Regions from separate parts of the Homo sapiens genome. Here region 2 is linked to region 1. A link means that fine-mapping ties the variant in region 1 to the expression of a gene that starts in the linked region. Tissue or cell type: whole blood. Region 1 holds a variant in brackets; the other region holds the start of a gene. All regions are shown on one strand. Distances are between the middles of the regions.

Evidence for each region. PIP is the estimated chance that this variant, and not a neighbour inherited with it, causes the effect.
Region 2: it holds the start of MEAK7, and the variant in region 1 is fine-mapped to the expression of MEAK7 in whole blood (INTERVAL, PIP 0.99).

What each region holds. Positions count from the first base shown.
Region 1 is chr16:84,438,535-84,444,242 of GRCh38, forward strand. ATP2C2 (ATPase secretory pathway Ca2+ transporting 2) reads left to right here. Exons shown (of 27, transcript NM_014861.4): 12 at 632-756; 13 at 893-990; 14 at 2,323-2,424; 15 at 3,976-4,065. Among named protein-coding and RNA genes, the nearest start is that of ATP2C2-AS1, 26 kb to the right of the region's middle. The variant C/A (reference allele first, on the strand shown) is at 2,474.
Region 2 is chr16:84,502,645-84,507,644 of GRCh38, forward strand. It overlaps MEAK7 (MTOR associated protein MEAK7), which reads right to left and starts at 2,015. Exons shown (of 8, transcript NM_020947.4): 1 at 1,957-2,015. It overlaps LOC124903736 (a long non-coding RNA gene), which reads left to right and starts at 2,158. Exons shown (of 2, transcript XR_007065149.1): 1 at 2,158-2,291; 2 at 4,702-5,000. RefSeq lists enhancers at 1,425-1,925, 2,046-2,993, 2,356-2,475, 4,603-5,000 and silencers at 1,756-1,805, 3,991-4,110, 4,094-4,330.

The sequences.
Region 1 (5,708 bases):
ACGCTCTCCTCGAATCCAGCCAACCCTGGTTATGAGAGAGTGGGGTCGCACCGTACAGGGAGAGTTGGAGGGGTAAGAAAGAAGTGAGCAGACACCCCGAAACAGATCCACGCAGCAGGCAAGTGTGTCGCTGTGGCCCTTCACCTGCCCTGACCTGGACTTCCTTGTCTGGCTTCCTCATAGGAAGTGTCTACACCACTACACTCATGAAAAGTGAAATTCAAGGGACTCACGAGGACCCCTGGAACCAAAAACTCTTAATCCCACTTACTGTCTGATTTTGGGAATTCCTTTTATGGAACCCAAAGCCTTTTCTCTCTAATAAATGAGAATAATGTCAATGCAAAATACTTTTAAAGAGGCAAAACAGCTGACAGACTAATTCACATTAAGGTGTGGATGACTGACAGGAGAGGTCCCTTCCCAAGAGCGGGGTCTGCAGGGGAGGGCTCAGGACAGTGGGTGCTGCAGAAGGAGGCAGGTGCACCTTAGGATTGGGAATGGAGACTAGAACCAGGACACTGGGGACACCTAAGACAAGCTTCACCAGCCAAAAGCATTGCCAGCCCCAGCTGAGAGTCACACACTCCTTAAATGTGTTAGAGGGGACTCATTTGACCTTTCGATCCAGCCTGGCTGTGGCGGCCATTCCAGAGGGTCTGCCCATCGTCGTCATGGTGACGCTGGTCCTGGGAGTGCTGCGGATGGCCAAGAAGCGGGTCATCGTGAAGAAGTTACCCATCGTGGAGACTTTAGGTGAGGGACTCCAGCTGGTGGAATCCTTACACGTGGAATTGAATGGGGGCTTGGCTGTCAGGGCAATCCAGCCTGGGGGTTTCACAAGCCTGAGGATGGCAACTTCTCTTCTATAAACTGGTGTTTGTTGTACCAGGTTGCTGCAGCGTTCTCTGTTCTGACAAGACGGGGACTCTGACTGCCAATGAAATGACAGTGACCCAGCTTGTAACGTCAGATGGGCTTCGTGCCGAGGTGAGTGCCAAAGGAATTTACAAGCCTTAAGGATGCACCCAGCCAGGCTGTCTCCTTTCTAAACTAAGCACACAATGTCTTCTAGAACACAATAAGGAAGAAATAAATTGGGGTCATCTTATAATCTCCTTGCTAACATGACTGATTTTGTTTTTAATCATCCCATACTTCCTTTTAATAGATATGACCAATTTAAGGTAGCCTCCTTTTTTAGTTACTTATTAATTATAAGCACATTGCAAAATTTAAAAGCTAGAAAAAATCTTCCATACCTTCCACGATAAACTAACCGTGATTAGTCCATTTGTGGTTTGTTTGTTTGTTTGTGAGAGACAGAGTCTTGCTCCGTCACCCAGGCTGGAATGCAGTGGCTGATCTCTGCTCACTGTAACCTTCACTTCTCGGGTTCAAGCGACTCTCCTGCCTCAGCTTCCCAAGTAGCTGGGACTACAGGCATGCCCTAATACGCCGAGCTTATTTTTGTATTTTCTAGTAGAGACGGGGTATCACTATATGTTGGCCAGGCTGGTCTCAAACTCCTGACCTCAGGTGATCCGCCCGCCTTGGCCTCCCAGAGTGCTGGGATTACAGGCGTGAGCCACCACGCCCAGCCTGTTTTATTTTTTAAGCCAGGGTCTTGCTGTGTCGCCCAGGTTGCAGTGCAGTGGTGCAATCATGGCTCACTGCAGCCTCTAACTTCTGGGCTCAAGGGATCCTCCCACCTCAGCCTCCCAAGTCCTTGCGTGTTTTTCAGTGTCCTCTGCGTGCTTGGCGTAATTGGAAGCTCTCTGAATGTGCAATTTTTTTATCCTGATATTTTTTCTACAAAACTGGCCAAACCAAGGGGTGAACAGGTGATGGTCCATGGGCCAGTGCTTGTTTGAAAATAAAGTTTCCTTGGTGTACCACCACACCCATTTGTGTACATATTGCCAATGGCTGCTTTCATGCCTCAGTGTGCCGCAACGGCAGAGCTGAGTAGCCACGACAAAGGTGGTATGGGCTGCAAAGGCTAACACGTTTACCCAGCGCTGTTCTTGGAATAGAAGCACTCTTCTATGCTAGTTCTTAGTTTTCTTAACCATCACTTGTACTGGCTGCAGAGTATCCCACTGAGTCAACTTGCTGCAACTTACTCATGCCTGGTACTGTGTCCATCCATGACGTATCCAATTAATCAATAATCTTTCAGAGAACATCTTCATACTGAAAGCCCTGTCCACGTTTAGGATTGTGTCCCTGGAATGGATCCCCAGGACAGAGATTGTGGGCCAACTGGGGGAGCATGTTTTTGACTCTTGGCGAAACCCTTTCTTCTGCCTCGCCCTGCAGGTCAGCGGAGTTGGGTATGACGGTCAAGGGACTGTGTGTCTTCTACCATCCAAGGAAGTCATTAAGGAATTTTCCAATGTCTCAGTGGGAAAGTTAGTGGAGGTAGGTGTCAAAAGCGCCATGAGGGAAATAGGCATTTACATTGAGGCTT[C/A]TGGGGCTCCTCTCTGAAAAGGGAAACAGCCATTGAACCTACTGGTTCTTGACAATGACTGGCCCATCCAGGGGTGAGGCTGGCACAGCACTGAAAAAATGGCCTCAAAAGTGATGGAGACATCAGAAGTAAGACGACAGCTAGGCTGGGCACAGTGGCTAATGCCCGTTATCCCAGCACTTTGGGAGGCCAAGGCAGGAGAATCACTTGAGGCCAGGAGTTCGAGACCAGCCTGAGCAACGTAGTGAGACCCTGTTTCTATTATTTTTTTTAAAAAAATTATTTAAAAAGAAGAGCTAGAAGCCTCTGTACTCATCACTGCCCACTGGGAAGGCTCTAAGGAGACTCCTGCCCAGAGACGTGCCCGATGAATGGTAAAAAGTGAGCCTGTGATGAATTTCCCCTATTGTTATTAGTGAGCCTGTGATGATGTTCCCCTGTTGCTGTGATGAGTCCTGCGGTCCGAGCTGTACTCACCCTTTCACAGGGGCTCCCTCCTCCCCATGTAGCAGGCACCCTTCTTCCTCTGTACAGTTCAGTGAGCGCCACTTGCAAAGGACCTGCCTCCAGGGGCCACTTCACTATCACAGCAAACGCTGTCTTGGTTTTGCAGATTAAAAATCAAAAATATGACCAGGCGTGGTGGCTCATGCCTATAATCCCAGCACTTTGGGAGGCCAAGGCGGGTGGATCACCTGAGTTCAGGAGTTCAAGACCAGCCTGGCCCACGTGGTGAAACCCCATCTCTACTAAAAAATATAAAAATTAGCTGGGCATGGTGGCACACACCTGTAGTCCCAGCTACTCAGGAGCCTGAGACAGGAGAATTGCCTTGAACCAGGGAGGCAGAGGTTGCAGTGAGCTGAGGTCATGCCACTGCACTCCACCCTGGGTAATAGAATGAGACTCCATCTCGAATGAATGAATGAATGAAACAAAAATATGCAAAACTAGTAATAATAAAAAAGAAAAGAAAAGAAATGGGCAGAGAAGTAATGCGAGTGTCCAGGCTCACCAGGCCGGGAAGGAAGAGCGCTGGGAATCCCACTCTTTTTGCTTGTCTCTTTTTCATTTTTTAAATATTTATGTATAAATTGAGGTAGAAGTCATCTACCATGAATTCACCCCGTTAAAGTGCACAATTCAGTGGTTTCAATTTGTTCACAAGTTGTGCAAACTTCACCACTGTCTAGAATACTTTGTCACCCCAAGTGGAAATGCCATCATCCCCATTATCGGTCGCTCCCCGTTACCCCACACTCGTCACCACCCGTGCACCTGCCTCCCTGCTGGGTTCCCTCATGATAACTTTATGGGAACCAACATTCAGCACAGCCAAGAAATAGTCACGATGTTTCTTTTAAAAAGCCGGGACGCTGAGTTGTTTTAAAGAGCAAGTCTTGTCCCCACAACCCCAGCTGTAAAAATGGGACAGGCCCACAATGTCTAACTTTTTCATGAGCCCAGTACTAACTACAGATGTCCGGACAATCCCCTTTTAGGCGGGCTGTGTTGCCAACAATGCGGTCATCAGAAAGAACGCCGTGATGGGGCAGCCCACCGAGGGTGCATTGATGGCCCTGGCGATGAAGGTAGGAGGTCCTGGGGTGGCTCTGCGGGGAATTCTTTCGCTCGGGGCTGGATTCATTGGTAGAAAGCCAGCTCCTGTCTGAGCTAACAGGAGTGGGGACGTTAGGTAATCATGGAAGAAAATGGCCCACACTGGCCTTGGGCCATCTGTTGGTGGTGGAGGAGGTGAGCTCTGAGATTCCACGGGACTTCAGCAAGTTCTGCAGGTCTCTAATCCCTCCACCAGCGATTCCAAAAGAATCCTATGAGCTTCCCTGTGGTTCAGGCCCTGGTCAGGTGTTGAGGCGACAGACAGTGGAACGAGACTCCCTATGCACCCAACACGACCCTGTGCTCACCGAGGCACCACTGGGAGGGGCTGGTTCCTGGGAATGTATTCGATTGACTCCGGGGTTCAGTGTTAGACCCTGAGCTCTGTGGCTGTGCAGGGTTGCCCCAGGCCATTCTGTACCCAGCACCAGGTACCAAGTGGCTGCTTGCAGTGTGGAGGGGATGGGTGGGAGCTGATGGGGGCCTGCTGCATTCTGTGCTCAGAGGACAAGTTAGAAGAAGGAGAGGCAGAAAACATGGGCTGGGAATGCAGGTGACAGGAAAGCAAGGAGAAGAGAGGACAAAGGACATGGGAAAGGAGGGGCCGGCAGAGGTTAAGAGGAGGGAGCAAAGGAAGGAAGAAGGTGGCCCCGGTCAGCTCCCACGTCTGTTTCCATGGCCACTTGGCCTGGGTCCCTCCTCTTCAGCCAGAGCTGGGGCTCCCCTGGACACTGTGGGAGCTCCTTTCCCCGACCCGCTCCGTGCTTTCTGCTGTGTGACTTGTCTCTGACTCGGGTGTGATCAGAACCCTCTCCATCAAGGTCAAGGGAAAAGCCCGACTCAGGGTGCTCATCCCCCAGCACGGACCCCTCGCTGCCGCCGAGCCTGGCCCCTGCACTCACCCTCCCTTCCTGCTTCCTCCTGGACTTTGACCACTCCTGCCTGTTCTCACTGGCGAGTGCCGACTTTCTCTTCAAGTTCACTCCAGTTTCCACCCCAGCAGACACCTCTCCTCATCCCGGGCTCACTTCACTGCCTTGTATTTTCAGCTTACCTGTCCCATCACTGAGCACCAGGGCTCACTTCACTGCCTTCTGTTATCAGCTTACCTGTCCCTCCCTCCAGTGCAAGACTCCAACCTCCCACACCACTGCCTTCCCAAAGCTGGTGCTGGGCGGGGGAGAGGTGGTCGCCCTCTCATAAGCCCCCGTGTTGGTAGATCAGGTGCTTTTCCCCAGTGTAAGAACATTGGAAAGTCATTACAGGCTGAGTGCAGTGGCTCAAATCCCAGCACTTTAAGAGGCTAAGGCGGGAGGATCATTTGAGGCCAAGAGTTTGAGACCAGCCTGGGCAACATAGCGAAAACCCATCTCTACAAAAAATATAAAAATTAGCTGGGCATGGTGGTGCATGCCTGTGGTCCCAGCTACTCAGGAGGCTGAGGCAGGAGGATCCCTTGAGCCCAGGAGTCTGAGGCTGCAATGAGCTATGATCACACCACTGCACTCCAGTCTAGATGAGAGAGATCCTGCCTCAAAAAAAAAAAAAAAAAAAAAACAAAAAGATTGGGCACAGTGGCTCACACCTGTAATCGCAACACTTTGGGAGACCGAGG
Region 2 (5,000 bases), 64 kb after region 1:
AGGATCATTTGAGGCCAGGAGTTTGAGACCAGCCTGGGCAACATAGTGAGACTTCGTCTCTGCCAAAAATACAAACCTCAGCCGGGTGTGGTGGCGTGTGACTATAGTTCCAGCTATTCAGGAGGCTGAGGTGGGAAGATCGCTTGAACCAGGAGGCAGAGGTCGCAGTGAGCCAAGATCACAACAGTGCACTCCAGCCTGGGTGACAGAGCAAGACTCTGTCTCATAAAAACACAAACAAAAGTTCCAGCAGCCCATAATAAGTGACCAAGATGTTTTGCTTGACCAGACTTTAGTCAGGCTCCTGGGCCCATCTGTGTACCTCTTTGTAAAATCTGGTTTTAGCAAAACAAAAAACAAACAAACAAAAAAACCCACAAAACCACTCATCCTTGATATTTGATCACCATTATCTGTTCACTTGCTATCTAACCAGGTTTAATGCTTAGGTTAGGGATATCCAATCTTTCAGTTTCCCTGGGCCACACTGGAAGAACTGTCTTGGGCCACACATAAAACCCACTAACAATAACTGATAAGTGCATATATCTACATATATGGTAAAAAAAAAATCTCATGTTTTAAGAAAGCTTATGAATTTGTGTTGGATGTCATTCAAAGCCGCCTTAGGCCACATATGGCCCACGGGTTGGACGAGCTTGCCCTAGGTGATGTCTGATCACCCTGGCCTGCCTTCAGTAACAAACTGCTAGGTAAGCTTACCCAGAATCCACCCTAGCGCCCTGATGTTTCCTCAGTCATCTTCCATCCACTGATCCCCACCCTGCTTCCTGGCTTCCCACTTGCCCATGCTATAATCAGAGTTGAGCCCAATCTCTCTCCTTTACTACAAAATCCCATTGCTGTGGTCCCTATACCCATTGCAATGGTCTTCAATAATTAATGTGCTTTTAATAAGCATCATTAATTAATTTCTTTAACATAAGGTTGAGAAGATTAAATAAGGTAACCCAGGGCATTTGATCTGCTTACTGGAGGTCAGAGACAGAATAATGGGCCCAAGACAACAGAGAATGGCTCCTTGGGATCTTGTCTTAGAACAAGAGAAACTGCCCTGCTTGGAAGAAACGGAAGGTTGCTCTGCCTCCGTGATGGAGGGGTGGACAGGGACCGATTGTCTGCAGGATGGCCCCCAAGGTTCCCACTAGTATCCTAGGAATGGCTTAGTCACCTCCTGCTCAGAGCTTCTCCAACAGGCTGTTACATGGCTGCTTCCCACCCTGGCTGCCAAGCTCCAACTCTCTACTCCAAGGGCCCCGCATCCCTAGAGCCACACAAGGGTCCCTCCGTACCCCCACAAGCTGGGGAGATTCCAACTGCCTCATCTGGACAGGCTTCGAAGTCCTGTCTGTGTCTCAGAGCCCAGAGGCCCTTGTGCGAAGGGGCAGCTTGAGCCTGGGCAAGAAGTTCCTGTGGGCCAGAAGGTGACCTGTCCTGTGCTGGCCACCTACATGGCCTGGGAACAGTTATCAGCTCACTGTCCTGGAAAAGCCCAGATGGGTGTGGTCAGAATACAAGAAGGAAAACCCCCTCCACACACACTTCAGTGTCTACCCCAGACTCGCCTCCTCCGTGGAGGCACCCCTCCCTTTCCGCGTCTACACAGGCTCTGAATCCCCCTTCAACACGGCTGGCCTTGGCCCTGGGGGAAGCACCTCGCCACCCTCTTACCTTGACCACATAAACAGCGGGAGGTGCAGGATGATTCTGATCCCCCCCAGGAGACCCTCCCTCCATCCCGCCCCGCTGTCCCCACCCCTCACCTCCCCGCAGCCTTCACCTCTCCCTCCCCCGACCCGAGGGCCTGAAGAGGCGTGGGAGGCCAGGGAGGGGCAGGGCCCAGGCCTACTCTGGACCCGTCTGCTCCAGTCCCCCGACTCAGCTGGGCCTGCGCCTCTGGGTCAGCTCACTGCGAACCTCAGCCCAGGTACCTACCCTGCCGGGCTTCCTGGTGCTGTCCGGTCCGGTCCAGCAGCCCACGGGCTCCTCTCGAGAGCCGCCCCTTCCCTGTTGCCAGGCAACATTGCTGAGGGGCAGTCATTTGGTCCAATCGTGGAAGCGGAGGTGTGGGGCGGAACCCAAGAGAGGAGTCAGCCAATGGTGACGCGCCTCACAGGGAGTGAGCCGAACCCGGTGGGTGCGGCTCGGGGCGGGGCCGCGGTCTGCGGGAGGAGCGGCTGCAGGCCCGGGAATCCGGCCCGGCTGCGTGCGTACCAAGGAGGCGCCTGGAGAGGGCGGCCAATGACTCAGGCCAGGCCAGGCCAGCAGTGGTACCTGGGGAGAAGGGGTGTCTGGGCTGGGCGCTGGAGCGGAGTAGCCAGGGTGTGGGAGATCCTGGGGGAGAGGCTGAGCTTGGGGGTGAAGACACCCGGGGGAGGAGAGTGGCCCATGTGGAGCCCATGCAGAGGCCTCTGCAGTGCAGCCTCCTGGGCCCCAGGCAACTCTCCCCTGACTCCCCGGCCTGCTGGTCCTGGCCTAGAGCCTCGGGTCCGCCTCCCCTCGGGCCTCCCTCTGCCAGCTGCCCCTGCCTCGCTCTTCCCTGGCACCAGGTCCTTCCCGGCAGCCATCAGGCGCCAGCTCCACAGCCTGGCTAAACAGACTCCCTCCACCCCACGTGCGCCTCTTCAGCCGGTTCCCGTTCACTCCAAGACGTCTGAACCTGTCACCCCACTTCTTCAGCTCGTTCCTTCTCAAACCCACCGAAACCTGGTCCCGGGGGCCTGCTCACTACATCCGAGGTGCGCTTTGGGTCCTCGCAGGCAGCATTTGGCGCTTGGTGATCGTGCTCTCATCAGACCTCTCTCTTGGGCACCCCGGCGCCCATTCCTGGCCCTGGCTCGCTCGCTGTCCCTGGTGGTCTTCCCTGGGCCCTTCTGGCTTCTGCCCTGGAGTTTCTCGACTTCTCCCTACTCTCTCCACCCCACGCATCCTCCCTGGGGTCCACCTTCCTGCAGATTCAGCTCCCGCATGTCCATGGTACCAGTTCTCTCCCCTGCACGGCCTGCTGGTTTTCCAGCCTGGAAAACCGTGACTTCGCCCGCCAACGTCCGCTTGAGTTGGTCTCGAACTCCTGACCTCAGGTGATCTGCCTGCCTCGGCCTCCCACAGTGCTAGAATTGTAGGGGTTAGCCACTGCACCCGGCTGGTCACCTCTTATTCTTTAAGCTGGAACAAAAATAGAAGGCTTTCTGCCTGAGGGCAGCAGGCCTGGCTGGTGACAGTGCACAAGGTAGGGCCCCTCACCAAGACATTGCTCTGAGATCCAAGGCCAATGTCCCAGGAGAAGCAGCTCCACAAACTAACGCATCTACAGCCAGGGTACCCCCAGCTGTGGATGCCAATGACACGAGTAGCCCCAGCTCTTCACCTCGGCTTCTTAGAGTAGGTGCCTGTCACCTGCAGCCAGGGCTCCTGATGCCCAAGACACACGGGCCTTTAGACATGAAGGACTAGACCCTGTTTCCAGCCTTCACACCCCTGTACTTCCTGCACACATCAACCAGGTGTGTCTTTTTCAGTGCCATCCGAGGTAGTGGCATTTTTGACATAGCAACAGTTTTTTGTAGGCTGAGGCACACCAAGGGTGGACAGCAATGGTGGCCTCTCAGGTGCAGGTACTGGGGGGTCCGCAGGAGCAAACCGGAGCCGATGTGTCAGCCTGGGCAACATAGTGAGACTCCATCTCTACAAAAAATGAAAAGCTTGGCCGGGCGTGGTATGGCACACCCGTAGTCCCAGCTACTCAGGGAGCCGAGGCAGGAGGATCGCTTGAGCCTCAGAGGGCGAGACTGCAGTGAGCCGTGATTGCACCACTGCACTCCAGCCTGGGCAGGAAAGTGAGATCTTGTTATTAAAACGGTGAAACAAAATCCCCCAGAAAACCACAGAAGCAAATGCGGAGCGGCGCCGTTTGAGAGCTACCGAAGTGGCGCCACCTCGTGGCCATACCCTCCAGAAACAGCCTACACTCCAATCTGCCCACCTGCCTGGTTGGAAAGTTTCTGTTTTTGATGGAGTTTCACTCTTGTTGCCCAGGCTGGAGTGCAATGGCGCAATCTCGGCTCACTGCAGCCTCCACCTCCCAGGTTCAAGCAATTCTCCTGCCTCAGCCTCCCGAGTAGCTGGGATTACAGGCATAGGCCACCACACCCAGTTAATTTTTATATTTTTAGTAGAGACGGGGTTTCACCACGTTGGCCAGGCTGGTCTCGAACTCCTGACCTTAGGTAATCCACCCACCTCGGCCTCCCAAAATGCTGGGATTACAGGCATGAGCCACCGCCCCTGGTATTCTCAATTTTTTTAAATAAGAGATTTATATTGCTTGACATTTTGCATATAAAGTGAGACTCTTTTAAAAATATACATCATGCTATTTCAACAAGCTGGTGCTCCCGGGGATGTCCATGGGCTGTCCAACTGCCCCCGGGGCACCAGCTTCTGTTTTTTATGCTGACTTTGGGCACTGAACTCTCCTTGGCTCCCAGAGGTCCTGACCAGGCTGGTCCTGCCATCCACAGCGGTGCCTCTGCTAGCGACATCCCTGCCCAATTTTCCATGTCCAGCTTTGACACCTCCACAGAAAGGCTGAGCCACCACCGGGCCCCCATTGTGGCTGAGCATCCACTCTCTCTTCCCCATGTGCTCCTTGCCCCCGACTCCCCATCTCTGGAACCCAAGTTTGGGCTGCATGGACCACCTTCTGGGCCAGGCTGTTAGGAGGCCACCACCAAGCAGCAAACGCAGGAGCAGCCGTGCCCTGAGGAGGCACCACCAGCAGCCTCCAGCAGCACTCGGTGAGGCGGGCAACGATCCATCTGTGCCGCCAGCATGGAGCCGGAAGCCACGGCTGACTTGTGCAGTAGAGGAAGTCGAGTTCATTTTATTGAATTTATTCTCATTTTCAGTTTGAATGGCCACATGTGGCAGGCAGTTATTCTATTGTGCAGTGCTTGCCGGACCACATGCAACAATTCAAA